6 separate regions of the Homo sapiens genome follow, and all the other regions are linked to region 2. The links come from fine-mapping of genetic effects on gene expression. A gene starts in region 2. Each other region holds a variant in brackets. All regions are shown on one strand. Distances are between the middles of the regions.

Region 1 (5,078 bases), 62 kb after region 2:
ACGAGCAGACTGATAGAGACTTGAGCTCAGGTTTATTAAGGAAAATGATCGTCCCTGGGGTTATCTCTATTGTAATTTCGGCATTTTCAGCATGTAGCCTCAAGGGAAGACAAAGGACTTCAGGCTATAAACGCTATGCTTTGCCTTCTGCTTTTATTTCCCCCTTTTCATCATAGTCTGTGGCCCCCCATGCCTTCCCTGTTAGGAAGTAATTTCTCATTGCACATCCAATCTTAGAGCACTGCTTTTCTGGCCTCTTCCTGTGTGTAGTTTCTGGCATTGTATAATGTACTCTTAAAGCAGAACCTGTGCGAATGTGTGATTTTTTTCGTTAGACAGTAACTCTCAATTTTTTCAGTGGAGATCACACAGTTTTCAGGTTGTGTGGACTGGAAGCCCTGGGCCAGGGCCCAACCGAATGCATTACCCCTCCAAAAAAGACACCTCCTGCCCATGTAGTTTCCTGTTCAGTCTGTTGCTTTGGCAGCCTTGAATCAGTTTCTTTTGTTATTTAGTGTTTGCTGATATAGTGCTGTTTGATTATTTATCTTATCCTCTTCCATGGACCACATGTTCTTCAAAAGTAGGGAGTATGCCTTGCATTTCTGTGTTATACCTCATTCTTCTCTGTCAACATCTGGTGCAATACATACACAGCACATAATAAAGATCAAAACTTATCACGCAGCCCCTACTTACTTATTAGTTATGAATTTCATGAAAGCAAATAAAGTTGAGATATTTAAAAATATGTCTAGTGAAATACATGTCTCTAGATCAGGGTTTCTTGATAGTAGCAGTACGACAATTGCCATTTTGTATCAGATAATTCTTTGTTTGGGAGGTTGTCCTGTGTACGGTAGGATGTTAGTATCCTGGCCTCTACCCACTCGATGACAATAGCATTTTCCCACACACCGACTTCTGAAATTAAAAATGCCTCCAGACATTCCCAAAAGTCCTGTAGTGGGACAACATCACCCCTAGTTGAAAACCACTTCTCTAGATCCTCCACCTTTGAGAAAGATTTAAGTGACTGAATGTGGGAAGGGGTTGGTCTCCTAAGCAAGTGCAGAGACACTTCTCCAGCATATTACCAATTTTAGATTAATAAATTCTTTTATGTAGAAGAAAATTTAAAAATACCGTTAAAGTAAGGAACAAGATCTAGAACCTGAAAAAGTCAAATCAGGATGTCTAAATGAGATGTGGGAACTGCAGAAATGTGAATCCCCGCAGAAAACTGAATCCACTGTGTGTGGGTATAACCCAGAATTAATGCTACTTTACCCTGTAACGCTTCAGTGTGTGGCTCCTTTGCCTCTGTTTGTTTACAGGTAGAATTGGAGGTATACGACTTCTTCTTTGAAAGGAGTGCACCTATGACAGTCCACATCTCCATCAGAACAGCAGATACAAATGCCCCCCGTGTATCCTGGAATACAGGTAAAGCTCAATATAAGGCATAGAGCAACATAGCCCTGAAGGGAATACAAGAAAGTAGATGGGTCAGGAAAGAAAGGTAGTTTTATTCCTATGTCATACATGTGGCAACTGAAACCCAGACAGATTAAGGGCATCACATAGTAGCTTTTGTTGTTGTTTTTTTATTCCTCCTGGCAGCGTGAGAAATTTAAATCCAGGATTTCTGCGTCCTGAGGCCAAGTTCTTTCCTCTGCCGGAGATAAGACAAAGGGACACTTTTCAACTGAATGAAGCAAAAAACTGACTATTTGTGATATTGAGCTGTAGTGGGACTGAAATCTCCAACTCAAATTGTTCCAAGGGATTGGAGAAAGGTTTAGCTTTTATAATCTATAGTCTATTTTTATGTTGGGCTGCATGGAAACTAAAATATGTAAATAAGAGCTTTAACTGCTTTAAAATATGGCTTTCTATGCCTCTCAATTCTGAGTGGACTTATGTGATATATATATGTATATGTTGATCAGATGTAAATGTGGAATGTAAATGGAGATCTTTTCCTTCTCACTGATCCCATCAATACCATTTGAAACATACTTATAAGCAGTGGTGGTAGATAGTATTAAGGAAAAAATATCTGTGTCTGATTTAAATCCTCAGGTGGCAGCTTAAACGAGCTGCCTCGTGTGTGTACACATAGATATGTGTTTGTATGTGTGTGAGTTTCAGCAGAGATAGAGAACATCAGGTGAGCAGCCTTGATTTATAATTCTGGCTATACATCCTACTGTACCTCTGTCAAGGGGGTAATGAGAGAAAAGATGGAATCAGTAACCTAAAGTTTAGGAATAATCACATGTTGCATGGGCTCCTGCCTGAGTGTAGAGATGGAATAGTCTGTACGTGTATGTGTGATCGGTGACACCCAGGTTTGCTCAATGTCATTTTGGCTGCTTTGAACATCAGAATCCCTTTTAAAATAAATGTTTGCTTATTATGAACTTGATCTGTGCCATCGTTGAAATTTGGAGAATGCATCTAAAATTATTATTTCGCCGTGAAGATATAACCAATGTTAATATTTTGCTGTATATATTTCTAGGCTTCTCGATTGTTCCTCTGCTGTGCTCCGTGATGCCTTGTCCTATGCACTCCTGGCTTCCAAACCCTTATTGCCAGTCACAGAGATTCTTCTTATGCACTTCTGTCCATTTCTTCTCCCTCCCACCCTCCCTCCCTCCCTCCCTCCCTCCCTCCCTTCCTTCCTTCCTTCCTTCCTTCCTTCTTTTTCTCTCTCCCTCTCCTTTATATATGTATTAGCCCAATTTCCCTAGAAAACAGACCCCGAGGCAGATCAGATGTACTAACCCTATACTAAAAGCAAGAGTAAGGGGAGAAGCAAATAAAAACGCATGGCTGAGCTGGTGTCACAGCTTTACAATAAGATAAAGCAGATTGCTCTGCAGTGTTGATGTCTCCAGGGAGAAGATGCAACTGCTGTGTCTGGT[A/G]AGAGTTGGAAGTGGGGTTGGGAAAAGGTCAACAATCTATTAATGGTCAGTTATTTCCCATCTCCTGTGTTTAATGGGTTAAAGTTTACTTCACTGGCTGTTAACTCCCCACATGCCCAGATTGTGTTATCTGGCCCCTCTTAGCAGCCATTGCACACACTTCCTGGGTCCCCTGGTGCAGGGCCTGATCAGCCACAAGGTTGGTCCTGCCGCCACTAGAGGGCAGTGGAGGTAGCCGGCTGCATCAGAAGATGAGGCAGTGGTGGCAGGAGGGCTTTACAATTTTGGAGACTGGGAACCCTCATGGGGCGGCTGCAGCTAGAGAACAGTCAGTTGGTCGAGGCCGGGATGGCAGGTGAAGCTGGCAGATGTGAGAGAAGCATAAGATAAGTCCAGCAGCACGCTACCTTGCAATTCGACCAGCTTGCTCTGCTCCCTTTCAGGATTATCTGTAATCTGTTGTAATATTGGAGTTAATAGTACTAAAAATAAAAATAGTACTAAAAATAAAAGCTACATTCCAGTTTCTTGAAAAGCTTTTATAGATGCAATATTCAGATGGTTTCATGAGTGGAAATTCACTCATCTTTTCTTAAGCAGGCACGTTGGCATGTCATAGAACTTGCCAATACCCTTTTCTTATCTTTTTTTAAAAAATTTAAGTTCTGGGGTATATGTGCTGAACGTGTAGGTTTGTTACATAGGTATACATGTGCCATGGTGGTTTGCTGCATCTATCAACCTGTCATCTAGGTTTTAAGCCCCTCATGCATTAGATATTTGTCCTAATGCTCTTTCTCCCCTTTCCCCTCTACCCCCGAACAGGCTCTGGTGTGTGATGTTCCCCTCCCTGTGTCCATGTGTTCTCATTGTTCAGCTCCCACTTATGAGTGAGAGCATGTGGTGTTTGGTTTTCTGTTCCTGTGTTAGTTTGCTGAGGATGATGGTTTCCAGTTTCATCCATGTCCCTGCAAAGGGCATGAACTCATTATTTTTTATGGCTGCATAGTATTCCATGGTGTATATGTGCCTCATTTTCTTTATCCAGTCTATGATACCAACACCCTTTTCTCCTTTCTTTCATAGGTCTGAGTCTCCTTGAGGGGCAGTCTCGAGCCATCACTTGGGAACAGTTTCAGGTTGTCGACAATGACGACATTGGTGCTGTCCGGCTAGTCACCGTTGGTGGCCTGCAGCATGGATGGCTGACTTTAAGAGGTGAATGATCCAACTTGGTAACCTAGCAAAGAATCCAAAAGTATTTTCTTCAAAAGTAGATATATTTAACAGATATATGTAGCATCTCTTGGGCCCAATTTCTCAATGAAATTGTCAAATGCAGAAAATCTGGAGATCTTGAAATCATTGACTTTTGTGTTCAAATGCTCAGATCAATGTCTAACCATTTATGAATGGTACCTTGTACGTGGCTCATTGTTTAAACCTCAGTTTTGCTTTCTGGATGCCATGCATGGCTTCTTGTAAGTATACTCCTTAACTAGTTATTTTTTTCCCAGTTGGAGGACAGAATGTTTTTTATTTCTCTGCTTCAAAGAAGTATATTGAAAAATTAGGCCGAGCGCAGTGGCTCACGCCTGTAATCCCAACATTTTGGGAGGCCAAGGTGGGTGGATCACCTGAGGTCAGGAGTTCAAGACCAGCCTGACCAATATGGTAAAACTCCGTCTCTACTGAAAATACAAAAATTAGCCGGGCATGGTGGCGGGCGCCTGTAGTCCCAACTACTTGGGAGGCTGAGACAGGAGAATTGCTTGAACCTGGGCGGCAGAGGTTGCAGTGAGCCAAGATCACGCCACTGCACTCCAGCCTGGGTGACAAAGCAAGATTCCATCTCAAAAAAAAGAAAAAAGAAAAAGAAAAATTAATGCTTAATTAATACTTTAGTAATAATGATGTTATGTTATTAGTAGTAGTTGTCATGGTTTAAAAGAAATAAATTTATAATTCTATGGGATGATAGTTAACAAGGTAATAATCTAATAAAAGTAATATTTACACTTTATGATAAAATAAGTCATTCCTTATAATGAACTCAGAGGATTTAATTCAATTATCTTCTTAGTTTCCCTAACTGTAATGCAGAAAGATAACTCTCACCATCATTTGTGAGCAGGGAATTCTGGA
Region 2 (5,078 bases):
CTAGTTCTTTTTAAATTCCCTAGCTTGGCATTTCAATCTGTTCAAACAGTATTTTATTGATTGAAGTTGATAATTGTATTATTTCCAGGCCCTTATTCATTTGTGGCAGATAGAAGGAATGACATTTGTATAAACAGGTACTTCAGATTTCAGGACATTTTGACTGATCTAACTCTTAACTGCCTATTTCAGAATATGTTCAGCACAGTTAGGCCAAGCTTCATGTATATAATTAACTTTGGAAAGATTATATCTCCTGCGGACTTTTTGAAATACTTTACAATCTAAGTTTGTTATTTTTTGCTTAGCATGCTTAAGTTATTTTTCCCATAGAAGTGATATAAAGACATTTATCTCTGTTTCTAGACTAATCTGTAAACCTTATTTAGCTCTTAATCTATCTATAAACTTTATAATCTATCTATAAACTAATCTATAAACCTTATTAGTTTCTAGACTAATCTATAAACCTTATTTAGATGTTAGAATAAGCATGTTGATGCAACCGTTTGTACATAGTATACAATTCCTTTGTCAAATGGAATCCGAGTCTCAACTAACAGCTTCTAAAACCATCTTCATTTCTTTGCAGGTAAGATATTCACAACCTGGGCAATTTTGAAAATCAGTTGGGGAATAAAATTGTCTATTATGCTGTGTTTCTTAACTGTCATTATTAAGGCTTTATTTCTTGCCTTTTCAGGATTAATATATGACTCACACATTGTCACTATATTTATTTAATAATAACTGTGTTTAGTAAATAATATCTGTTCACTTATAAAGAGCTTAGTGATTCTTAACTTTCACCTACTTATTCTCAGAGCAAATAAAATGAATCAAGAAATTCTTGAAGATTTGAAATCTCCGATGACTTTGAGTAAGTGTATATGCACCATTCATTGCTAAAGTAACCACAAAGCATGTTTTTAAAATACATAATTTTTTTCTCCCTTCTTATGCATTCTTTTCTTCTTTACATTTTTCTCTTTTCTTTCTTCCTTCCTCATGTAATTTTCTTCTCCTTTTTCATTTTCCTCTCTCTTTTCCTTATGGCTTCCAAAGAAAGGCATATGGTGTTGTGACCTTGTTACGGGAAACCACATCTAGGTTGAATTGGATTCACAGTGTTCTATATTTTTGGCAAAGGTTTAGGATAGCCAGACATGTCTTAATATAAACAGTTCCCCCAAAGTGAGTTAATACTTCAAATTCTCTCTTTATGGTTAATTTAGAAGGCCAGATGGTAGGCCATTATCTTTTTTTTTCCTGGTGGGAATAAAATACAGGAAAGCATTTTATTAAACAGTTGTTAAGGATTAAGACTTTCACAGACCACTGAATACTGACAAGTTAACTATGTGAATCTCTGTTGAGAGGACAGTTCTTGGCCAGTGATATATCTGCATTATTGGGATCACGCACTATATGCAAATGGATCAGATTAATGGGATTTTTATGGGTTTTCGAAAAGAGCCAGACACACAAAAAGCCTTACAAATGGAAGAACTAAGGTGGTACTTAAAAACAGCACCTTAGGATCTAGTTCCATCCTATCTTTTCCCTTAAATGCCATGACAAAAGTTAAAACGGGCCCTGTCCCTTCTGAATGCTGGGCTTCTCATCTAAATTTAAATAAAAACCTTTGAAGATGGGAATGTGTTGGAAGAAAAGAAGGGCAGAAAAAAAGTGTGTTGGAAGAGTCTGTGTGAGTATGTACATGTGTGGGTGTGGGCATGTGCGGCCTGTGCGTATGTGTGTGCCCCCGTGTGTGTGTGGAGCATGCGTGAGAATGCATGCACATGTGTGGGGTGGGTCACTATGTGTGCATGCATGTGAAGGCATTTGCCTGTGTATGTGTCTGTGTGTGGTGATTGTGTGTCTATCGTGTTTGTATGTGTGCCTGTGTGTGTACCTCTGTGAGTGGGTGTGTCTGTATGTGACTGTGTGCCCATTTGTGAATGTGTGTGTGCCTGTGTCTGAGTGTGTGTGTGCCTGTGTGCTGCAGGCGGGAGAGGCTGCTCTGGCTCGGCGAGTGGCGGAGCAGTTAGTACAAAACTAGTAGTGAGAAAGGAAGCTGGGAAGAGACTGGGAAGAGGCAACCGACCTCATTAACAAAAGCTCAGTTTTGTCCCTGCGGACCCAACCAGCAGAAGGCACGGGGCTAGCGGTGGCTGTCCGCCAGGGAGGTCGGGCTCTGTGTAAACAGTAGAAGGCATCTTTATCATGCCCTTCTCACAGGGAGTCCTGAGGCTTGGCGCTCAGGAAGTTTGCAAAGCTGCAGCAGCTGCCTTGGAGAAGACCAGCAAAGAAAGTGGAGTGTGTATGTGAACTTCAATTCTGTATTTTCTGTGAGGTGGGTTAATGGATTTTTAGTAAAAAGAAATCTCAAACACAGCTGACCTGAAAGACTGGAATTTCAGCTCTCTTCCTTCCCGGGGTTCTTTTTCCTCCCCCTTCCTCTCAAAGCCCTTTAAACCAGATTGCTGTGTCAGTGACTCTTATCCTGCCCGCCAGTTCCAAGGGTTTCTAACTTTTTGTCTTGGAAAGGAAAACCACTACCTGTAAGTATCTGTTTTATGTGTTTCTTTTCATTGTGACTGTGAATGTTCTGTTAGCAGAATGCCCCAGAGATTGTTTGTGTGATATCATTAATGCCAAGTAACAATGCAAAGCATCTGCAAGAGTAGGCTTGCAAAAGTTTAACTCTCCTGTTAACTCAGAAGATGGCAACTTGCAGTGTTAACAAACCAAATGCCAAAACTGAGATTCTTTTTATTACGTGACACAAATTTCTAACTCTTCTCAGTCCATCCGTGCTGGCACTTGCCAATGAAATAACCATTTTTTAACTGTGTAATTGTTTCCTCTGAAATTAGAATGTTTCTTCTCAGCTAAATGAAATGGCAAAGGGAAAAGACACAAAAATGAACAGAACAGATAATATCCTCATGGTACAAACATAGAGAAATTTGGATGAGATAATGTCTGGATACCTTTGCTTAAGTTTAGTTATATTTGGAGACATATTTTCAAAAACATGATTTCTGTTTCATTGTGGGGAAGAGAGATAGTGCTGGGGAGGCAAAGAAATGGCCTTGTTCTGAAGTTTTTGGACTGATTTTTAGGCTCTCTCTGCTCAGTACTGAGATTTGGTCCAGAGACTTTGGTGCTGTTGTAAAGAGTTTCTTTTCATTTTATTTTGAAATCCAGGAAACAATTTTTGGCTTATGGAAATTGTTTATTGTTTTTAAGGTATTTAATTTTAGTTTCTGATTTTTTTTTAAACTATTGCACCCAGTCTTGTTGCTTGGTGTGCATTACAAAGCTTAAAAAGAGCATTTCTGGGAGCCAATTGGTGTTTATAGCCTGGGAATCTTACTGGAGAGATTAACCTCTGTGGTGCTGCTTCACAGAACAGAGCTAGTGATTCGAATGCTCTTCAGGTTTCTGCTCTGGAAAACTGACACCCGCTGTTCCTGACTCTAGGTAAAGCTTGAAGAGCTGTGCCTCAGCCCCCTGCTTACATTTGATAAAGGTGCCTTCAGTGCAGCTCTAGGAAACTTTGCTGTTTCTCTCCATCAGGCATTCTCAAAACTGACTGTGTGTAAGAACCCCCATTTGCTTGGTGAAAGGCAGGTTCTCAGTTCCCAGGCCCAAAGGATTTTAGACCTGGAGTGGTGCCAGGAATCTTCCCAGGTGATTCTGAAGCAGGTGGGTCACACTTGGGTAAACATTGCTCTACATTGTCCTTGACATGAAATTCTTGTCATGTACTTGGTTAATATTAAACCTTATATCTAAATAAGAAACCTGAGTTTGAGCTGTTGTTGAGCATAACTTAATGTGCAACATGGTTTTGCATGCTTGGCTGGCAAACCAGGGCTTTTTAATCAGTTTTCCACCAACCTCATCTTTTTTTTTTCTTGCTTCCCTTTTCATCTCTGCCTTTTCATTCCCACGAGGGAAAAAAGGAGTTGGGCAAAGGGACCTGACTACCATGTTCCCTGCTTTCACATGTTGGGCTATATGGCCTGATCTGCCCCCGCATGGCTAAGCAATGTTTGTTTTGGAAACTTTAAACCCAGGACTGTTCTTAATTCTTTCCCAGCCTCCTGGGGCTGCTGGGCTGTAGGGGTTGGGCGAGGCTGAGTTTGGGTAAACTGAGCTTGATTTCATGGAATGGTTCAGGAGCCTCATTCCTAGAAAATGATTTTTGGATTGGACCATCCCACAGGGATGAGAAGAAACAGAAAATGATTCTTCCATGGTGTTAAAATTCTCATTTCACAATATGTGAAAGTCAGAGCTCAGCTTCCATCCCCATCCTTGCATTTTCTGGCGTTTAATATTTATATTAAAAAGAAAACTGGACATGGCCATCAGAGCCCCTTGCTTTCTTTTCTTTCCTCATTCCAAACATTTAGGTGCACCTGCTACATGCCAGGCTCTGTGATAGTTTTTAAGGATTTCAGAATGCCCACTGGGGATGGCATGCACAGGCAGGGTCCTTGTCCTCATGGTGTTTCAAATCTTAGTTGTTGCTAACCAGCCTTGGAAGAGCCATCTAACCCCTCAAAGCTTCACTTCCTCATCAGTAAAATAAGTTGAATTAAATGAGTTTTGGTATCTTCCTAGCTCTGATATTCTGACATTGATGGATATGACTCAGTCTTCTAAACACAGATATGGGCTATGAGAGCTTTTCAGCATTTACTCTGAGAATAGGCCTAAAGATTTCGCTAATTGCTTTTCTTCAAAAATTTTCAGATGTATTTTTTTCTCTCACAAAGCACCATGACCACAGGAATATTGAGTTAGACAAGTGTAATCTTTTCAGGGCATGTAGCCATTCCTTACAATGGGATCCCGTAACTCCCTGGAAAGGCTGTTTCCCTGCGCCAGGTTACATAGGAGGGCAGCCTCTTATCTTGTCTGAATCTGATGTCGCTACTCCTTTGGAGAGCTGGGTGGTCTGAACAGGGCTTGACAGCTTCCACACATGCACAGCTTGCAACCTGACCCTTTCATTCAAGTGATTCAACAGCTTTTGTGCTACCAGGTGAGAGGCTTAAACA
Region 3 (5,078 bases), 82 kb before region 2:
TGGTTATAGCCTCTATAGACTCGCCTTCATTTCTGCTATTGTATTTCTAGTTAAGCACCTCACGCCACCAAAGCAGTTCTTCACTGAACCTTCAAAGAGAATTTTTTCAGCTCTGCCTTAACTCACATACTAGTTCAGCATCTCCATATCCCTAACAACTAGAATTTAGGACAGCTGTCCCCTTCAGAGGCTGCATTTCTCCTTTACCCTGGTATTCCTAGAATGCATGACCCAATATGAAGAATGCCTATACAACTGGCCCTTTACTAGTTAATTAAGCCCTCCAAGAATGTCTCACACCCTATCCGATTTATAACACTGCCAGACTAAGTTTTCTAAAACTTTAGTTATCACAATGGCACTTCCTTCCTGTCTGATTCCCCTTATTGCTACTGTAGTGGTTACAGAACTTCCGAAATCGTAGTAAAATATGAGATAATGCACATACTTTTCCCCCCTCCCCTCTCATAGTGCTTTTATGATCAGGTCCCTCTTACTTTCCCATTTCTCTGGCTCCAGCCAAGCCGAACGCTCCACTATGCCCAAACATCTCCTACACTTTTACGTCTCAGACTCTTCTCTGCCTTCAAAACCCATTTTCAAAGAGTTGTCTTAAAAGTCTTCTTTAACACCCCCTGGGACTTGTTAAATCCTCCTTCAGTGTTTCCATAGCACTTTCTACACACCAGCATTATAATCCCAAACAAAAAAGTCACAGTAGAATGCATATTCGCTTGTGCCCCTCCTCCCCAGGCCGGAGGCTCTACATGGAGAAGGGGCAGGCGGGTTGACCCCAAATCCGCAGGGCCCCGCACAATGTCTGGTATGTAATCGGTTCCCAATCTATCTGGGTGGGCGAATGAATGAAACGTTGGTTGGCTTAATCCGTTTCCCCAGGAAATGCGCCAAGAGGAGCTGGGCAGAAAATGCAGAGGCGCTACTTTCCTGGTCCAATCCCCTACAGAGCGCGAAACAGCGACCTGGGCAGGGTCCCCGCAGCAAACCGCAGACCCCGGACACACAGCAAGCTTAATAGTCACTGCATGAATGAAACGCGCTGCCTCCTGGTACCCTGGCTGTCATCCAAAGCCACCTGCGTAGCCCCCACAGCCTTTCTGGCAGTATCTGCGGCCCCGCCCCCGCGCCGGGCCTGCGCTTCCAGCCACCGCCCACCATTCTGCAGCTGCAGCGCCAGCCGAATTCCCGGATCCGCGGCCGCTTCCGAGAGCAGCCAACTGCTTCCGGGTTCAAAAGCCTCCAATGCGAATCCCAGCGCCGCTCGGGCGCGCCAATTTAGGGAAAAGGCTCCGCCCATGCCCCGCCCCCTGAGACCTGGCGCCGGGCGCTTTGAGGCCCGGCTTACTCCCTTGCTGGGTATGGGGAAGGGGCGTCTTCTGTCCTTGTGGTCCGCTTCTAGGCTTTTTGGAGCATCTTCCAGGGTCACTCCAGAGACCCCCCCAGACTACTGAATCTGAATCCGTTAGGGTGGTCCAACCTTCCTCTTCAGGTGTCTACTAGAGGCAAGGTTGGATGTATGCGGCTGCCCTCAGTACAGCCCCTTCCTTGTTTTTTCTTCATTTGTGTTTACTTAAAACATTAATCCTTTTCTCCCTCTCCTCCATCCCTCTCCCTCCCCTACTATACAGTTATTGACTTACACTAATTCATTCCCGATGATCTCCCAGAAGGAAATAAGTGTCTGTCTGTCTCTGTCTCTGTACCATCGTCTTCTTGGTACAGTTCGGACTATTTTTTCTCTACACCCCAGTTATGCAAAGTGTAGTCCCTGAACCAGCAGCCTCAGCATCCTGAGGGAATTTGTTAAAAACGCGAAATCTCAAGCCCTACCCAGACTTACTGAATCAGTGTCTGCATTGCAACAAGATCCCCTGGTAATTCCTATGCACATCAAAATTTGGAAGGCACAGCTCTCAACTGATGTCCTGGGTCTCCTTCACATCCATCCTGGGAAGGTCTTATTCCTCATTCCTGAGGTGAGTTCCCTATTTCCTGAGTCTGTGTCTTTTTCTTGATTATATAGCCTCATGTTGTGGAACATATCCGCCAATAGTTCCTTGAGGGAGGTTGCTTCCAGGTCTTTTTTCCCACAGAGCGTGCAGGTCTGGAACTGTTTTTATTCTGGCTGAGTTCTAGGTTGAAAATAACTTTCACTCGGAATATTGGAGGGCTTGCTCCACAATATTTTAGCTTCCAAAATTGTTGAGAAACTCTACGTCATTGCATTTCCTTCTCCTTCTCAGGTCACTAAATTTCTTGTTATGTAACCCGCTTTGGTTTCGGTTTTGTTTTGTCTCAAGAAGCTTTAGGATCTTCTCTTTATACCCAGCGTTCTAAGACACAATCGAGTGTCTTTCTTATGGGTCTTTTCTCATTCCTATTGATCAGTTTTTCAATCCTGAAACACATGTTCTTCCGTTATGGGGATTCTCCTGGTATTATTTATTTGATCGTTTCTTTCCGCCCTCTCTTATTTTATCTCTTATTTTTTGAAATTTGTTATTTAGATCGTGGACCTTCTTGGCTGATGTTTTTTCTTACCTGTCTGTCCTATTTTCTATCCCTTCATCTTTTTATTCTACTTTCTCTGTGACTTTTTCAACTTAATTGGACAAATGATTATCAGATTACTTTATTTCTTTTATTATACCTTCATTTCTAAGTGCCCTTTTTATTCTCTGTTCTTTTATAGCATTACATTATTGTTTCATGAATATA[C/A]CTCCTTTACTCTCTGAAGATGTAAATTATAGGAGTTTTAAAATACTTTCTACATAACTCTGCATTGATTTTGATTCTTTGAGTTTTTTTTGGTTGTTTGTTTGTTTATATTTGGTCCCTGTCGTTTCTGCTAGAGGCGTTCTTCATCTTGTGTAGTGATCCCTGCTGTCAATTTATATGTAAAAGTGATGCTCTAAAAAGGTGCTTTGGGGACATAGGCAAGGCTTGTTCACTGCTGGACAAGGTGTAAGATGGTGGGGCAAGGTGTAAGATGGTGGGGCAAGGTGTAAGATGGTGGGACAAGGTGTAAGATGGTGGGGCAAGGACCAGCTGTTTATTTTCTTCTAGAGAGTAATCTTCTAATTACTTGCTTTGAGAATATATAGCCTTCTTGGAGCCCAATGCGGGAAAGAGTTTGGGAGACTTAGTAATTTCATTATATGCACTGATGCCCTGTGTTAGTTGGGGTTCTCCAGAGAAACAGAGAATGAATAGATATCTATATCTATACCTATATCTCTATCTATCTATTAGCTCATGTGATTATGGGGGTTGAGAAGCCCCACAATCTGCTGTCTGTAAGCTGAAGACCCAGAAAGCCCATGTTGTAGTTTAAAGCCCTGATAACTGGAGATGGTGTAGATTCCAGTCCGAGTTTGGAGTCCTGCAAACCAGGATCACCGAGGGCAGGAAAAGATCAAAAATTCAGTTCAAGAAGTCTAGCAGAGAGAAAGTGAATCCTCCCTTCCTCTACCTTTTTGTTTTATTCAGACCCGAAATGGATGATGCCCACCCACATTGGTGAGGGTAATCTCTTTTACTCAGGGCCCTCACAGACACTCAGAAATATTGTTTAACCAGATATCTGGGCATCCTGTGGTCCAGTCAAGTTGACACATAAAATTAACTCTCCACCGAGCATGGTGACTCATGCCTGTAATCTCGGCACTTTGGGAGGCCAAGGAGGGTGGATCACTTGAGGTCGGGAGTTTGAGACCAGCCTGGCCAACATGGTGAAACCCAGTCTTTACTTAAAACACAAAAATTAGCCAGGCTTGGTAGCACGTGCCTGTAGTCCCAGCTACTCGGGAGGCTAAGGTACAAGAATCACTTGAACCTGGGAGGTGGAGGTTACAGTGAGCTGAGATTGCACCACTGCACTCCAGCCTGGGTGACAGAGTGAGACTCTGTCTAAAAAAAAAAAAAAAAGACCTAATTATCATGCATACCTTCACTTACAGCACTGTTTCATAATAGCATTTTTACCTTCAGCTGTGTCTGGTGTCCCTGAATCCATATCCTGGTTCCATATCTCCCAAAAGAAATAATCTTGCAGGTTTCAGGTTGGGAATGAGGGTTAGAGAAAGTTTCCCTGACTTTGCCAGGGGAGGAAATCTAGGAGTCTTAACTGCTTCTGGGACTTTTAATGGTCTCTTTTCAGCTCATCCCACTGAAGAGCTATGGCACTTCCAATTCCTGAGCCTTTGTGAGGTTCTGCGTGTCAGTAAGCTTGCTTCCGGGCATCACCTCCGAAAACACTTGGGTTTCAGTTTTCTCTGGTAAGTCCGTATGTTCACCAGTACATTAGCTCCCTAAAGCTGCCATACAATTACCACAAACTGGGTGGCTTAAAACTATGGAAATTTATTCCCTTACAGTTATGGAGGCTAGAAATCAGAAATCAGGAGGTTGGTTCCTTCTGGGGTCTCTGAGGGACAATCTGTGCCATGCCTTTGCCTTAGCTTCTGGTGACTGCTGGCAATTCTTGGCATTCCTTGGCTTGCAGATGAATCACTCCACTCTCTGCCTCTGTCATTACGTGTTCTCCCTGTGCATCTGCCTGTGTCTAACTTTCTCTCTTTTTGTAAGGACGGCAGTCATTAGATTAGGGCCCATGCTAATCAAGTATCACTTTTATGGTTTTATTATTTTTTTTATTTTTATTTTTTTGAGACGGAGTCTCGCTCTGTCGCTCAGGCTGGAGTGCAGTGGTGCCATCTCAGCTGACTGCAACCTCTGCCTCCCAGGTTCAAGCAATTCTCCTGCCTCAGCCTCCTGAGTAGCTGGGACTGCAGGCGCACACCACCATGCTCAGCTAATTTTTGTGTTTTTAGTAGAGACAGGGTTTCACCATGTTGGTCAGTCTGGTCTTGAACTCCTGACCTCAAGCGATCCACCCACTTTGGCCTCCCATAGTGCTGGGATTACAGGCGTGAGCCACCACACCCGGCCGTCACTTTATCTTATTTTGATCACATCCGCACAGACCCTATTTCCAAATAAGGTCACAGTCAATGTATCCTTTGGGAGGATGCAACTCAACCCTCGTCAACTGATTTCTA
Region 4 (5,078 bases), 110 kb before region 2:
AGGTTAAATAATTTAAAGTATATTTTTCATCTAAGAATTCAAGCACAATAACAAATACCCCCACCACAGTCGAAATGAAATGGAGCCTAAGGTGTATGCACACACCCCCATACTTAGCCCCAAATGTATACACACAGCAAGAAGGCATATCCCTATAATGTGTCTAATACATAAATTCACTTTAATATAAGCCTGAATGCAAATAATCTTGGCTATTCACCTTTGCTAGAATGTAAGATGAATTTCACAGGTTTTTAGGACATCTGCTTTTAAAAAAAATCACTTCAAAAAGTTCATTTTGAAATACAAGCTGAATCCCTATCTTACCTCTGCTGGAATTTGGGGGTATAAATGTGCATGTATTCATGTGTGTATGTGTCAGGGGGAGAGGAGGGAGGTGTGGTGGGGGGTGGCAAGTGGAGGTTTTTTTTTTTTTACTCACATGTGAGCCATAGCAAAAGAGGTCCATTCCCAACTCAAGCCCCATACCATAATCACATTCATCATTAGCAAACTGCACAAAAGTCATCATTTCCTGAATGGGAGCAAAAGCTTTTCGTCTCTCATCATCACTTGCAGCCTCAACTATTGTCTTGCAAATTCTCTTGAGGTCAGCTGAAAGAAATCAATAATATAGAAGATTATCTACACAGTTAGAAAATGAATCAGTCTTCAGAGGTAAAGAAACTACAAAGAGGGTTTTTCCTCCTAAGACTTTTTGTACTAGTACAACTTGTGCCACCTCGGGTAGTAATCTGCAGCACTGTAATTTAGAATGGCAATTTGGTAATTTTTCTACATAGGATTCAAGCTTAAAAATGGCTTAAAGATTTCTTAGCGACTATTTCACAGGATTTAGTCTTTTTTAAAAATTTTTAAATTTTATTTATTTATTTATTTATTTTTTTGAGATGGAGTCTCGCTGTCTCCAGGCTGGAGTGCAGAGGCGCAATCTTGGCTCACTGCAACCTCTGCCTCCCGGGTTCAAGGGATTTTCCTGCTTCAGCCTCCCAAGCAGCTGGGATTACAGGTGCGTACCACCATTTTCAGGGGATTTTTGTATTTTTAGTAGAGACAGGGTTTCACCATGTTGGCCAGGATGGCCTTGATCTCTTGACCTCATGATCCACCCTCCTCGGCCTCCCAAAGTGCTGGGATTACAGGCATGAGCCACCGCGCCCGGCTACAGTCATGATTTTTTTTGAAAGTCTATTCCATGGTGGCAATCATGATTTTACATAAGCTTTAAAGATTCAGCAGACAGGTCCAGGAATTGGCAAACTTGGGCCAAACCTGGCTCACCCCATTTTTAACTACCCTCAAACTAAATATTTTTTCATTTTTAAATGGTTGAAAAATAAAACAAGAATGTGATAGATTATGTAGCCCACAAAGTGTAAAACATTTACTATCTGGCCCTACATAGAAAGTTTGCCAGCCTGGTCCATGCACTATATAGTTGCCTCTGAATCTGAGAGTTCTACATCCTTAGATTAAACCAACTGCAGATTGAAATACTCAGGAAAAAAATTAAAAAATACAGATTTAAAAAAATACAGTATAACAACTATTTACACAGTGTCTATGTTATATTAGGTATTCTAAGTAATCTAGAAATGATTTGAAATATACAGGAGGATGTGCATAAGTTATGCAAATACTACACCAACTTACATAAGGGACTCGAGCATCAGATTCTGGGTATCCTTCAAGGTCCTGATACTAAGAGACAGCTGGGTTAAAAAAAGATCCAAGTAGGCAAAATTTGTTCTTTTTGCCCTGTCCTACCTTATTTGTTAGAAAATTACTGACTTGTGGTGAATTAAAACAGAAAAAGACAACAATGTAAGAGACAAGGAATCACTGCAGAATTAAACCTTTAAAACCTTCACCAAAGTGGGAGAAGAGTAGCCATGGCAAGCATG[C/T]GTTTGAGGTAAGAATAGAGAGACAATGTCTAATATTTGCCTGAAGAATATATTTTTAAAAGTTAAATTTCAATTTTGGCTTTTAAGATTTTTTTCATTCTTTCTGGATGTTAATGTGCATCAGATTTCAGGATGCAAATGAGATGGAAGTGTCAACAATGTCTAATTAGACTTCCTTTTGACAAATTACATGTCCTTTTTGACAAACTGTACTTCTTTGAGAATAATAATGAAAAGAATGGATATTATTCAAACAAACCAACAAAACACTTCCAAACAGCTGGCTGCTATACTGGGGGAGAGGAAGACTGGTTAAAACATTAACAATTATACTCAAGAATGATACGTGATTTTAAATTATATGTATGAGGTACAATGTTCTGATGATACTAACAAAAAATATAAGGTATAATAATACCAAGGATGGGCTGTGTGCAGTGGCTTATGCCAGTAATCCTAACATGGGAGGATTTGGGAGGCTGAGGTGGGAGGATCGCTTGAACCCAGGAATTTGAGACCAGCCTGGGCAACGTGGCGAGACCCTGTCTCTAGAAAAAATAGAGAAATTAGCTGGACATGGTGGTGGGCACCTGTGGTCTCAGCTACTTGGGAGGCTGAGTGCTGGAGGTCCAGGCTGCAGTGAGCCGTGATCATGCCTTTGCACTCCAGCCTGGGTGACAGAGTAAGATCCTGTCTCAAAAAAAAAAAAATGATTACCAAGGATGGTATTATAAAAATATACTATATACTAGGGCTTTTAACCCCAGTCTATGAATATCATTTGATTCAATCTTGATGACAGTACAGAATACATGCTGTTACCCGAGTCACAAAATGTGTTTTCTTCCCTTTCCCACTTTTGGTAGATCAGTATCATGTTGAACGAATGGCAAACTTCACCACCTATGTTTCTAACTATCTCTAAACAGTAGTGACGTTTTTTATTGGTTTGAAACCTTTTAAAAATTAAATTGTTTTACATAAGCTTCATGACCTTCCTTTCTTCAGAAAAGTCAGTGCTGATCATTTCAAGGAAACAGATGAGGCTTTCTCCAAAAAGCTCCTTAAGGATGGAAAATAAGTGGTTCCTCCCTGCACCCATGGGTGTAACTGATTGATTGGGACCCTTAGAATCTCTCTCACAGTGCCCCAGGCAGCCACTACAAATCAGGGTGGGTATGGAAGTGAAGACCTATTTGTCTTCTGTTAGCAAATAATTTAAAGTTTATCACTTTCCAGTATCACAGTTTCCATTTTTACACATGCCAAGTCACATGTGGACTAAAAAGAATAAGCAACTTATGTGAATTACTAAGCTAGAAAAACACTGAAGAACAGAGATGAAAATATTCAGCTCACCATCAGTACAAGGAAAAATATGTTCTTCCAGCCATAAAATATTCTATAGAAATTTCAATTAACCGAAGCCCAAACTTAAAGAACGTAAGTGAAGCCTTAAATTAACTATTCAAAAATGAAGCCTTAAATGTTTCTACTCGAGATACTCAATTAATGAGTTAGGAGTTTCACTGCTGAATTCTTACTATATCCCTGCCACTACTATCAACTAGAATACTTAAATTAAGCTACAGTGGTTGTGTCAAGGTAAAAATCAGGCAACTAGGCAGGCAACTCTTCTTACTTCAGATAGTAGTATGCACTCTACAGTCAGAAAACCAAGTATGAAAACCAGTGCCCTCAGCCGGGCATGGTGGCTCACGCCTGTAATCCCAGCACTTTGGGAAGCCAAGATAGGTGGATCACTTGAGGTCAGGAGTTCGAGACCAGTCTGATCAAGATGGTGAAACCCTGTCTCTTCTAAAAATACAAAAATTAGCTGGGCATGGTGTGGGAGGCTGTAATCCCAGCTTCTCAGGAGGCTGAGGCAGGAGAATCACGTGAACCCAGGAGGCGGAGGTTGCAGTGAGCTGAGACCCTGCCATTGCACTCCAGCCTACAAGAGTGAGACTCCATCTCAAAAAAAAAAAGAAAACCAGCCCCTTACTGACTAATGCTGAGCATGCTGGGTCTATTTCCTTTGTGAACATGGGAATAAGACCTACTTTAAAGAGTTGGGTGAGAATTAAATATGTGTACATCACTTGTTATAGTGAATCATGACACTGACATTTAAGAATTGCTCAATAAAAGGTATCTTATTTGCTAAGTTACAGTGTTATTGTAAGAAGCTTCAAAGGGTTAAGAACAAACTTAGTTGTGATTTACTAATCACTGTCACATTAACAAACTGCCAGTCAATTGTACCTCCTGGGAAACGACACTAGTCAAGAACAAGATTAGGTCCTTCATTCTTACATTTTGCTACTGCTTCAAAACTAAATACAGAAGGATCTAATTCCTAGAATATTAGACTTGGACATAAAACCCCAGAAACACAACTACAGTAGGGTAACAGGCTTTACTCCAGGGCACTACAATTTAACATCCATCACCCCAAAAGTTTTAGAGACTGCCCATCTCTACAACAAATGTGCCCAACCTTTCCCAAATGACACAATAATCATGCTTTTTAAAGTTCTCTCTGTGAGCAGAGACATGAAAAGAAGATGACTTAGAGTAGAAGCAGAAGACTGACCAGTAGCTAGAGCCCACACTGGTCCCATCAGAGACTAATTGCCTCTGGCTTCAAAGAGGAGATATAGGACAGATCAGCCTGTCCAAGTGTAATATAATACAGGCTACATTTTTTCCAGTATCCACATGAAAAAAGAAACAGCTGGGGCAGGGAGGAGGAGCTAAAAAAAAAAAAAAACAGGTGAAATTAAGGTATTGTATTTAACCCATATTCCCAAAATAGTATTATGTCAACATATAATCAATACAAGAAACATTTAATCCTGTTTTAATTTACATACTTAAACTAATTAAAATTATACAAAATTACACGCCAGGTACAGTGGCTCACGCCTGTAATCCCAACACTTTGGGAAGCTGAGGTGGGTGGATCACTTGAGCCCAGGAGTTTGAGACCAGCATGGGCAACAGAGTGAGACCTTGTCTCTACATGGAAAACAAAACAAAAAACACCAATTAGCTAGGCATTGTGGTACAGACCTGTAGTCCCACCTACTCAGGAGGCCGAGACGGGATAATTGCGCCACTGCACTCTATCCTGGGTGACAGAGTGAGACC
Region 5 (5,078 bases), 46 kb after region 2:
TGTGAAAAAGAGAAGAAGGAAAATTCCCACTGGTAGCTCGCAGGAGCAAGCTGTCTAAGCTGTCTTCCAGTTTGGACCTCAAGCATGCATGCCCAACTGAGCAAAACAAAAGCCCTGCAGATGACCAGATTCTCCTTAGTAGGCAATTTGGAGATAATCTATTGTTACCTAAGCCAGCCTCTGAGAGCTCTCCTCTCCCTACCTCAAATGGCCTATGACTCCTTACCGTATATGGCAGTCTCTCTGAGAGAAATAAAATTGTCCCCATTATATATCTTTAGTGATGTTTTAATGGTCCTGATTGCTTGGCCTGCTCCAAGGCACTGAGGAGCAAAAAGGGATCCAAGTGACTAGAACTAGGTAAAAAACATTTGTTCACAAGAATCAAGGATTGGAATAGGCCTGCAAGTCATCTCCATCTCACACTCTCTGATTTTAAGGTAAAACTCCAGTTACTAGAAAGACAGTATAGAGGAGAAACCACAAATTGCCTTGGTTGCTGAGAAACACCTCTGAATATACTGATTCCCTAGCCTGCTATTGCTCATTAAGAAAAAGTAGAATCAAGTCATGAATACTTAGTGTATGTATTTCCAGAGGCAAATATGACATCTCAAATGGATTTATAGCCTCTAAAGTCGGTATGGGATTTATATCTTCTAATATTTATTCTGTGGTAAAGGAGTTCATTAAAATATGGAGTTTCAGTACTTTTTTTGGCCAAATATTAAAACTGTGTGTGAGAGAAATCTATATCATGGGAGAACTTTGTTTCTCAAACTGCCAGGTGATTGTTCCTATTTGTTATTCTCATAATTTCAACAAAAACAAGATTCCTAAGTCTGTTTTGTTTTGTTGAATTTGTGCTTGGTTTTTAACGCAGGCTGGTTCAGTCCTTCCCTAGGGGTTCGTTCCTTATGGAGTTTTAGAAATTAAGCATAGCTAAGTGCATGTGCACACACACACACACACACACACACACACACACACACAGCCTAAACATTATTCTTTAATAGAGCTTAGTAATAAGCTGAAAGCCAAGCTTATGTGAACCCATTTCTAGCAAGACGACTGTATTAACAACACCCTGCTGTGTAATGAACAGTTTCATGTGACTTGCACAGAAAATGTTTTGTTTAACATCTGTTCAATTAGTGTTTTCATTTCATTACTGAAGTTTGTCTTAGGATCAACAGGTTCATTTTCCTGTTGAATATTTGGAAAGGGATTTCAGTTGATGCACACCAGTGCCTTCTGTTCAGATAACCCTCTTGATATAGTCAATTAGATGAGGTTGATGGCAATATGTTTTCCTCATGTTTTAGGACAAGACTCCCTCACACATGGCACTTCTCACACCTAGCCCAAAGCAAGAAATTTGCTGGGTGGAAAGCACCCCAGGTTAGCACTAAACTTGCTTTTTTGAATAGGAAATATAGCGGTAAGAAAGTATCTCTACTTTGAACCATTTTACTGTCATTAAAGTGAGTAATGAGCTAGGAATGTGTGACAATTTAATTATAAATTGTAATTGAAAAGCAGTTGAAGTGGAAAAAAACAAAGCTAGACAGTAATTAGAAAAGGATTTAGCTCTCCTTTGTTTTAGTTAGTAAATTTATGGACAATTATGGTTGTCGCCTTTTATAAAAGGAAAACATATTATGAAACATAAAACAGATGTTTCTTTTAACAAAGCAGACTGTCTCTTTATTACCATGACTATTTGTCAATGATATGGGGAAGGTCTTTGCTTTATCTCCTTCCTAGTTGTCAATTTAAAAGAGGAATCAATGATATCTGCGGGAAAAGAAAATCGTTTGTATTAGTGGTAAAGTCTTCTCTGAGTGAATTATGTTGTCTGAAAATGTTTGAGGCTGTGAAAAGGTACAGACGAAACACCACGAACACAATGGTGGACATGCGTGCATACCTCAAGGGTATTAGAACTCTACCAGAGTCAGATTGGGCAGAATGAAGGGCATGATATGGGTGGGAGAGATGATTCTTCCTCTAAAAATCAGGTTCCCAAAATATAACAGTTAACAATCTCCTAATAATTCTGAGTGAGTTGAGACAGTTCATTATAATTTTATTTGAATAGAGGAAATTGCTTTTAGATTTCTGTTTTTCTCATCTGCCATTTCTGCTATTGCCTAACTAATGAAAGCAGTTTTTTGCAAGTATGCAAGACACAACTCTGGGTCATGTTAGGCTCTGATTAACCACAGTAGTGTCCATAGTCAGTGGCTTCATCTTTGAATATGAGAATACTATTCGGAAAAAAAAAGAAATGAAAGGAGAACACAGATATACAGAAAGAATACAGTGTGTTTGTGGGTGGGTTAAAGCATGCCTTTTCATGCAGACACACAGAAAGAACTCTCTAACTCAATTGCTGTGAACCCCTGAAAGGGGTAAATAAAATTTCGAAAAATGAAAGTATGTTTTAAATGCACTCTAGGTGGTAAAAAGACACTTATTTAGAGACGTAATCATCCCTTAACTAATTTTCTTGAACTGCTTTGGTTTTCACAACTTAGATATTCTCAAAACAAGAGACAGCTGTATAAGTAGGATGGTGACTGGGTATGGGGGTAGGGTAGAGGTGGTGGTGGTGAAGACACACACACTCACACACATACACACATTACTAACAGAGCATATTTTCTCCAGGCAGTGCTCTCCTGGCAAAATGTTAAATCTTGTACCAATTTTCTCATAGATATTTATCCAATTCTTCATGTGAACTAGGTCTTTGACTGCCATTTCCTTCCCAACGAAGTCAAGTATGTTCACAATGGTTGTCCAATTCTTGATGAAGACACAGTGAAGCTCAGACTTTACAGGTAAGCGGCACGGGAACATCGCTCATTTGCTGCCAAGTAACCATTCTGTGTTCTTATGAGGGCTTTTCTTGTGGATATGTATTGTCATGAGGGGAGTTAATAGATTCCAGACAAGAAAGTAATCAACAGAAACTGGAGGCCTGAGTGGATCAGGCAAGATTTGTAGCCAACTTTCAGTTATTTCCACTTGTGTCATCTTCCCTAGGATTCTTCTGTGGCAAATTTTTAGCCGTATCCTGTTTCCCTCTAGTGTCCTTATATAGGTATCTCTGGTGTTCCA[A/T]CCCACCACTTATGGTAGAAAATGGAAATTATAAACTACAAATTCTTAATGAAAATCAGGGAGAAAATATATTCCAAAAATGAATGAAATTCTTCTTTTTTGTTACCAGCTGTTTAGTTACAGAAAGTGCAATATCTTCCATTTTTAAACATATTAAATATTTAAAATTCCTTTTTTTTTTTTTTTTTGAGACGGAGTCTTGCTCTGTCACCCAGGCTGGAGTGCAGTGGCGCAATCTCGGCTCACTGCAACCTCTGTCTCCCAGGTTCAAGCTATTCTCCTGCCTCAGCCTCCTGAGTAGCTGGGACTACAGGCGCCCACCACTACGCCCGGCTAATTTGTTGTATTTTTAGTAGAGGTAGGGTTTCACCGTGTTAGCCAGGATGGTCTTGATCTCCTGACCACATGATCTGCCTGTCTCCGCCTCCCAAAGTGCTGGGATTACAGGGATGTGCCACCATGACTGGCCTAAAATTCTTTAAAAATCAACTATGGAGTTAAACATGGAATGACCGTAGGAGACAGCAGTTCTTCTCCTACGCATATATATAAGAAAAATGAAAACTTATGTTTTACATAAGAACTTGCACTTAAAGTTCAATGCAACATTATTCATAACAGCCAAAAAATGGAATAAATCCAACTGATGAATGGATAAACAATATGTGGTATATTCATGGAATGGAATATCATTCAGCCATAAAAAAACAACGAAGCACTGATAAAGGCTACAGCATGAATGAACCTTGAAAACATTATGCCAAGTAAAAGAAGCCAGGCACAAAGTGTCACATATTGTATTGTTCCATTTGTATGAAATGTCTAGAACTGGCAAATTCACAGAGACGGAGAGTAGATTAGTGGTTGCCAGAGGCTGGGGAAGGGAAATATGTCTCTTTTGGGGTTGATGAAAGTCTTCTGGAATTAGGTAGTCATGATGGTTGTACAACCTTGGGACTACACTAAAAAACTCTGAGTTGTATATTTTTAAAAGATGAACTTTGTGGTATATGAATTATATCCCAGTGAAAATTAATTTTAAATTTAAGCTCACGATTATGGTATATCTGACTTCATAAAAGTCACTGAGAACTGATGTATGTGGAGTAGGCCTTTATAGGGTTTTTTATTTGGTTTTTATTGCTTTTAAGAATATTTGGTTAGATATGTTGGTGTGAATTTCCTTTAAGCATTAGACTAATGTAAAAGACTTTTGTACAAGACATTGGAACAGTGAACCATTCTACAAACATTTATGACCACCTATTACAGGCCAGGCTGTACGTTGAGCATAATCAACAAAAGGATGAGAATACACAGATTATTTTAGTGCTTGTAGTCTAAGGCAAAAGATGAGCAGGTAATTATGATGCAGAACAAGCGCCAAAAGAGAGTCACAAAATGCTGTGTTGAGAAAATGAAGCGGCACTCAAGGATTCCTTAGGAAGATATGAAATCAGCATACAGGGCCATTTGATCTTTCTAAGACTTTAGAGTTAAAAAACAAATAACTTCAAAGAACTTGCGCGGAGCGGGTGGGAAGGGTAGTGGGGAGTTGCAGGGAACATGGGGATGGTTAATGAGTACAAACAGTAGTTAGAATGGGTAAGACCTAGTATTTGATAGCACAACAGGGTGACTACCGTCAGTAACAATTCAATGGCACATTTTAAAATAACTATAAGATTATAATTGGATTGTTTGTAACAAAAAGGTTAAGAGGGCCAGGCGCAGTGGCTCATGCCTCTAATCCCAGCACTTTGGGAGGCTAAGGTGGGCAGATCACCTGAGGTCAGGAGTTTGAGACCAGCCTGGTCAACATGGCAAAACCCCATCTCTACTAAAAATACAAAAATTAGCTGGGAGTGGTGGCAGGCACCTGTAGTCCCAGCTATTCGGGAGGCTAAGGCAGGAGAATCTCTTGAACCTGGGAGGCAGAGGTTGCGGTGAGC
Region 6 (5,078 bases), 32 kb before region 2:
AGTTGTATTGCTTTAAACCTTCATAATCATCACTTAGTGGCTGAATTATATTTCATTTTGGGGGGGGGCATATCATAATTTACTTAATCATTGTCATAAGGTTAGGCATTTGTGCTGTTTTCACTTCTGTTGAGTAATTGATACTTGGATGGGAGCAGTTAATACACACTTAGAAGGAAGTGGCCCTATTTATAGATCATAAGTTTTTCTCAGATAAACCTCAATTCTGTTCTTGGCTCAGACACTAGTTTTGTGGTCTTGGGTAAGCTTCTATGTATTTGTCTATATCTATCTATCTATCTATCTATCTATCTATCTATCTATCTATCTACCTATCTATCTATCTAGCTAGCTAATCTATCATCTTTTGCGACAGAGTCTCACTCTGTCACTTAGGCTGGAGTGTAGTAGTGCGATCATAGCCCACTCCAGCCATGAAATCTTGGGCTCAAGTGATGCTCCCACCTTAGACTCTTGTGTAACTGGGACTACAGACACATATCACCATACCTGACTAATTTTTTCTTATTTTTTGTAGAGATGGGGTTTCACTATGTTGCCCAAGCTGGTCTCAAACTCCTTGGCTCAAATTATCTTCCTGCCTTGGCCTCCCAAAGTGTTGGGATTACAGTAGGCATGAGCCACCTTACCCACTCACTTATTTTTCAATTATAGAACTTGATTGAGGCCTCATTTACGTATAGTAAAATGCACAGATCTTAAATGTATAAGTCAGTAAGTTTTTATGTTCCTATATGCCAATATGACCATCTACATCCCCCTCCCCTAATTTGAGCCATTATTCTGATTTCTAGCACTATGACTTAATTTTGTATTTAAAAAATATATAAATGGAATCACTTAATGTGTACTATTTTGTATCTAACTTCTTTTGTTCAATAAAATTTTTGAATTTTTGAAATTCACCCATGTTGGGCCAAGCATGGTGGCTCATGCCTGTAATCCCAGCAGTTTGGGAGGCTGAGGTGGGTGGATCACCTGAGGCCAGGAGTTTGAGACCAGCCTGGCCAACATGACGAAACCCCGTCTCTACTAAAAATACAAAAATTAGCTGGATGTGGTGCACACCTGTAGTCCCCGCTACCTGGGAGGCTGAGGCAGGAGAATTGCTGGAACCTGGGAAGCGGAAGTTGCAGTGACCCGAGATCGCACCATGGCACTCCGGCCTGAGTGACAGAGCAAGACACCATCTCAAAAAGAAAGAAAATAAAAAAAAAAAGAAACTCACCCATGTTGTTTTATATATAAGTTTAGAAGTTTGTTGTATATGGTTATACCAATTTGTTTATTCTTTCTTCTGCTAATGCACATTTGTTTTGTTTCTATGTCGTGGCTATTACGAATAGAGTTGCTATGACTATTTTGCATAAGTCTTTTTGCAGATATATGCACTCTGATATAGTTTGAATGTTTGTCCTCTCCAAATTGCATGTTGAATGTAATCCCCAATGTTGAAAGTGGGGCCTGGTGGGAGGTGTTTGGGTGATGAGGGCAGGTACCTCACAAATAGCTTGGTGCTGTCCTTGTGATAGTGAGTGAGTTCTTATGAGATTTGATTGTTTAAAAGTATGTGGCACCTCCCTTCGTCTTGTTCCTGCTCTAGCCATGTGAGACGTCTGCTCCCCTTTCACCATCTTCCATGATTGGAAGCTTCCTGAGGCCCTTACCAGAAACAGATGCTGGCACTGTGCTTTGTTTACAGCCTGCAGAACCATGAGCCAAATAAACCTATTTTCTGTATAAATTACCCAGTCTCAGGTTTTTTTTTAATGGCAAACCAAAAATAGCCTAATATACAATTCTCTTGGTTGTATTATCCAGGAGTGAAATTGCTTTATTTTAAAGAAAGTATAGTTGGTGAAGTTGATAAATATGAACCAATGTTATATAATCACAGTACTGAATGGGATTAAAAAAATGCCAATAATTGACTTGGATAAATTTTTTAATCTCTCTAAGCCTTCATTTCATCAACTCTTAAATAAACCGAAACTATCCTGAAGAGTTGCTGTGAAGAATAAAATATGTAAGGAGTATAAAGTACCTACCATAGAATCTGGGGCATAATCAGGTGTTTATTAAATGGGAGCTACGATGATGAGGATGATGATGATAATGATGGGAACAATGGTGACATAATTTCTTTATCTGCACTGATAGGTAGATTTGTTGAGTTAAAATCCAGAGCTGATCTCTTTCTCTTATCCTTGAAAGATACTCTGAAAACATCCATGAAGTCCTGTGCCTCTTGTACATTTGCTAGACCTGCGGTTCTCAACAGGATCTTAGCATCCCACCCCTGAGATTCTGATTTAATTTCTAAGGATGGGGCCCAAACATCTGCTTGCTTTAAATGTTCCTCTGGTGATGTTAATTACGGTCGGGACTGAAATCCACTGCCTAGCAGACGAATGATGTATGCCTCATCTCCCCAGCCTTCACCGTTTTTCAGTTTTCCGAAGTAGCAGATTTGTTGCATAACTTCTTCATTCCTCTCTATGCTGAAAACCTCACTCGAGCCACTCCTGAGACTCCCAGACAGCCTCTGAGATTTATGTCTTACTGGTGAGCTCTCTCCTTTCCCTCCTTCTTATTTCTCTTGAGAATCTCAAGTCATGGATTTTAGAGGGTGTGTCTCTCTTCCCCACTTGCAGCTTGGGTTCAGTATGAAGCATCATTCATCTCAAATGTCACCTTATCAATGTTTTCTACTTACTTCTCCTTTTGTTTTTACTTTTTCATTTAAAATAAACACAAATAGGGTAAACTCCTCTAGCCTTTGGCAGGTGGCAGCCTGCATGCTTGGCTGCTCCCACCTTCCAGGTGCAGATTCTCCTGGCAGACTGTGGAAAGCTGTTGTGACTTAAGGAACAGCTGGGTTTTCTTCTATTTCTTTCATTTAAAAAAATTTACTTCATTTTTCCTCTTAATTATCAAAGTAATATCTGAATACTCTGGCAGGAAATTTTGGGAGTCACATAGAAAAGTGCAAAGAACAACAAAAATTATGTTGTGCAATTTTCTCTTTATATGGTAATATCCAGTTTCAGCTCCAGCAATTCCTAC[G/A]TGAATGGCCCTGGGTTATTCTTCTTTGAGCCAGTTGCTTCATATGCTCAAGAGGGATGATAGCAAAAACCTAATAGAAAAATTGGCAAATGTTCTTCTATGAGAAAAATATTTTTCTACTAGAGATTTATTATAAAATAAGAGACATGAGGGATAACTCACCAAAAAAGATTGAAATGGCCATTAAACACATACAAAATGTTTAATTTTAATCATATACAAAATGTTTAATGTTATGAGAAAAGTGCAAACTAATGGCAAAAAATTAAAAAGCTTGACAATATACTTTTTCAGGGAGGCAGGAAAAAAACAGGCAAGTCCACATATTGCTAGTGAAAGCACAAAATGGTACATCCGTATGGAGTGGAATGTGGCAATGCCTAATCAGACCACAGTGTGTTTACATTTTGGTACAATAATCCCACTTCAAGGAATTTACTCTGAAGATAGATCTCAACAATATAAAAATATATATGCACAAGGTTATTCAATGTAGTATTATTTATAATTTTAAAGTATTAGAAATGACCTAAATCCCCAAATATAGGACATTTTTATTGAATAAGGTATGGAACATCCACATCATGAAAAACTGCAAAAATATCTCCAGTCTGGGTGCAGTGGCTTATGCCTATAATCCCAGCACTTTGGGAGGTCGAGGCAGGTAGATCACTTGTGCTCAGGAGTTCGAGACCAGCCTCGGCAACATGGCAAGACCGTTTCTCTACAAAAAATTTAAAAATTTACTGGGTATGGTGGCATGCACCTGTAGTCCCAGCTACTCAGGAGGCTGAGGTAGGAGGATTACCTGAGCCCAGGAGGCCAAAGATGGAGTAAAACATGATTAAGCCACTACACTCCAGCCTGGTGACAGAGGGAGATTCTTAAAAAATCTCCATAAACAAAGATGAAATAATTTACTGCGAAAAAAGCAAAAGGCATAGGAGTACATAGAGTATGCTATATGTCCTGTAAGAAACGAAAGTGATAATATACATCTCAGGAAGGATGAATCGGAAACTAACGAGATTGATTACCTGCAGGAGATGGATAGGAACAAGGCAAAAGTGAAGTTTTGACTTTTGGCATCATGCTCATGTTTTTCACTCTGAAAAAAATTAGATCAACAAGGGTGTAGGGGAAAAACCCTAAAATGGAATACAAACAGAAGTAGATCAACCTAACCTTTAAATGAATAACATGACCATACTGAACAGTGAAAAAGAACAAACTCATAGAACTTTGGCTATTGTCCACTAAAAGACAAAGCTGAACTATATATATTAGGTTTGATTTCCACAATGTATGGGTTAGCTATTCTGAAATTACTTTCTGTGTATGGTAGGACTGAGCAAATGAGTAAATATATTGATTATGCTGACAACCAGATTTTCATAGTTTGAGAACAAGGATACCAATAAAAAACAGGAAGGCTGTGAGGAACACTGTAGTGTTTGGTGTTGGATTGTAATTAGAGGTATTAGTATGAATATCTGTATATCTATATACACACATATGTGTATATATGCTTGTCCACTTATAGATGTATATATGCACATTAACACTATTATAGGTGTATACAGATACATCTATATGTATCTATGGACACACACACATTCCCTAACTGCCTGCTAAAAAGACTTAGAAGCAAACAACAATACCAACAATGCACTTTTGCTTACAAATATCATGCCCCATTAAAAATAGATAGTGGTGCTAGAATTCATGACTGATTCCAGGGCCAGGGAAGAGAAAAACCAAGATAAGCCTGGAACATATTCTTGGCTAAAAAGTAAAGATGTACTTAAAAAACAATGGGAGTTTGTATTAGGGATCTTCAGAGAAACAGAACCAATAGGATGAATGGGTCAATAAAAAACAAGAGACGTGTTATGAAAAAATGGCTCATGCAATAATGAAGGTCTTGGCAAGTCTCAAGATCTATGTGGCGAGCTGGAGACCTGGAAGAGCTGATGGTATAGTTTCCATGT

What was found.
Region 1: its variant is fine-mapped to the expression of FREM1 in cerebellum (GTEx, PIP above 0.99). The same link has a PIP of 0.9 or more in amygdala, anterior cingulate cortex, caudate, cerebellar hemisphere, cerebral cortex and hypothalamus.
Region 3: its variant is fine-mapped to the expression of FREM1 in prefrontal cortex (ROSMAP, PIP 0.95).
Region 4: its variant is fine-mapped to the expression of FREM1 in spinal cord (GTEx, PIP 0.94).
Region 5: its variant is fine-mapped to the expression of FREM1 in lung (TOPMed, PIP 0.95).
Region 6: its variant is fine-mapped to the expression of FREM1 in ovary (GTEx, PIP above 0.99).

The regions. Positions count from the first base shown.
Region 1 is chr9:14,845,033-14,850,110 of GRCh38, reverse strand. It overlaps FREM1 (FRAS1 related extracellular matrix 1), which reads left to right. Exons shown (of 37, transcript NM_001379081.2): 7 at 1,338-1,446; 8 at 4,020-4,151. Among named protein-coding and RNA genes, the nearest start is that of FREM1, 63 kb to the left of the region's middle. The variant A/G (reference allele first, on the strand shown) is at 2,934.
Region 2 is chr9:14,907,400-14,912,477 of GRCh38, reverse strand. FREM1 (FRAS1 related extracellular matrix 1) reads left to right here and starts at 2,050. Exons shown (of 37, transcript NM_001379081.2): 1 at 2,050-2,564. RefSeq lists enhancers at 3,285-3,786, 4,736-5,078.
Region 3 is chr9:14,989,445-14,994,522 of GRCh38, reverse strand. LOC105375980 (a long non-coding RNA gene) reads left to right here and starts at 1,328. Exons shown (of 5, transcript XR_929491.3): 1 at 1,328-1,374; 2 at 1,769-1,994; 3 at 4,178-4,295. It also overlaps the pseudogene LOC389705. The variant C/A (reference allele first, on the strand shown) is at 2,737.
Region 4 is chr9:15,012,892-15,017,969 of GRCh38, reverse strand. It overlaps the pseudogene LOC389705. Among named protein-coding and RNA genes, the nearest start is that of FREM1, 110 kb to the right of the region's middle. The variant C/T (reference allele first, on the strand shown) is at 1,926.
Region 5 is chr9:14,861,577-14,866,654 of GRCh38, reverse strand. FREM1 (FRAS1 related extracellular matrix 1) reads left to right here. Exons shown (of 37, transcript NM_001379081.2): 3 at 2,752-2,846. Among named protein-coding and RNA genes, the nearest start is that of FREM1, 46 kb to the left of the region's middle. The variant A/T (reference allele first, on the strand shown) is at 3,127.
Region 6 is chr9:14,939,684-14,944,761 of GRCh38, reverse strand. No RefSeq gene overlaps it. Among named protein-coding and RNA genes, the nearest start is that of FREM1, 32 kb to the right of the region's middle. The variant G/A (reference allele first, on the strand shown) is at 3,088.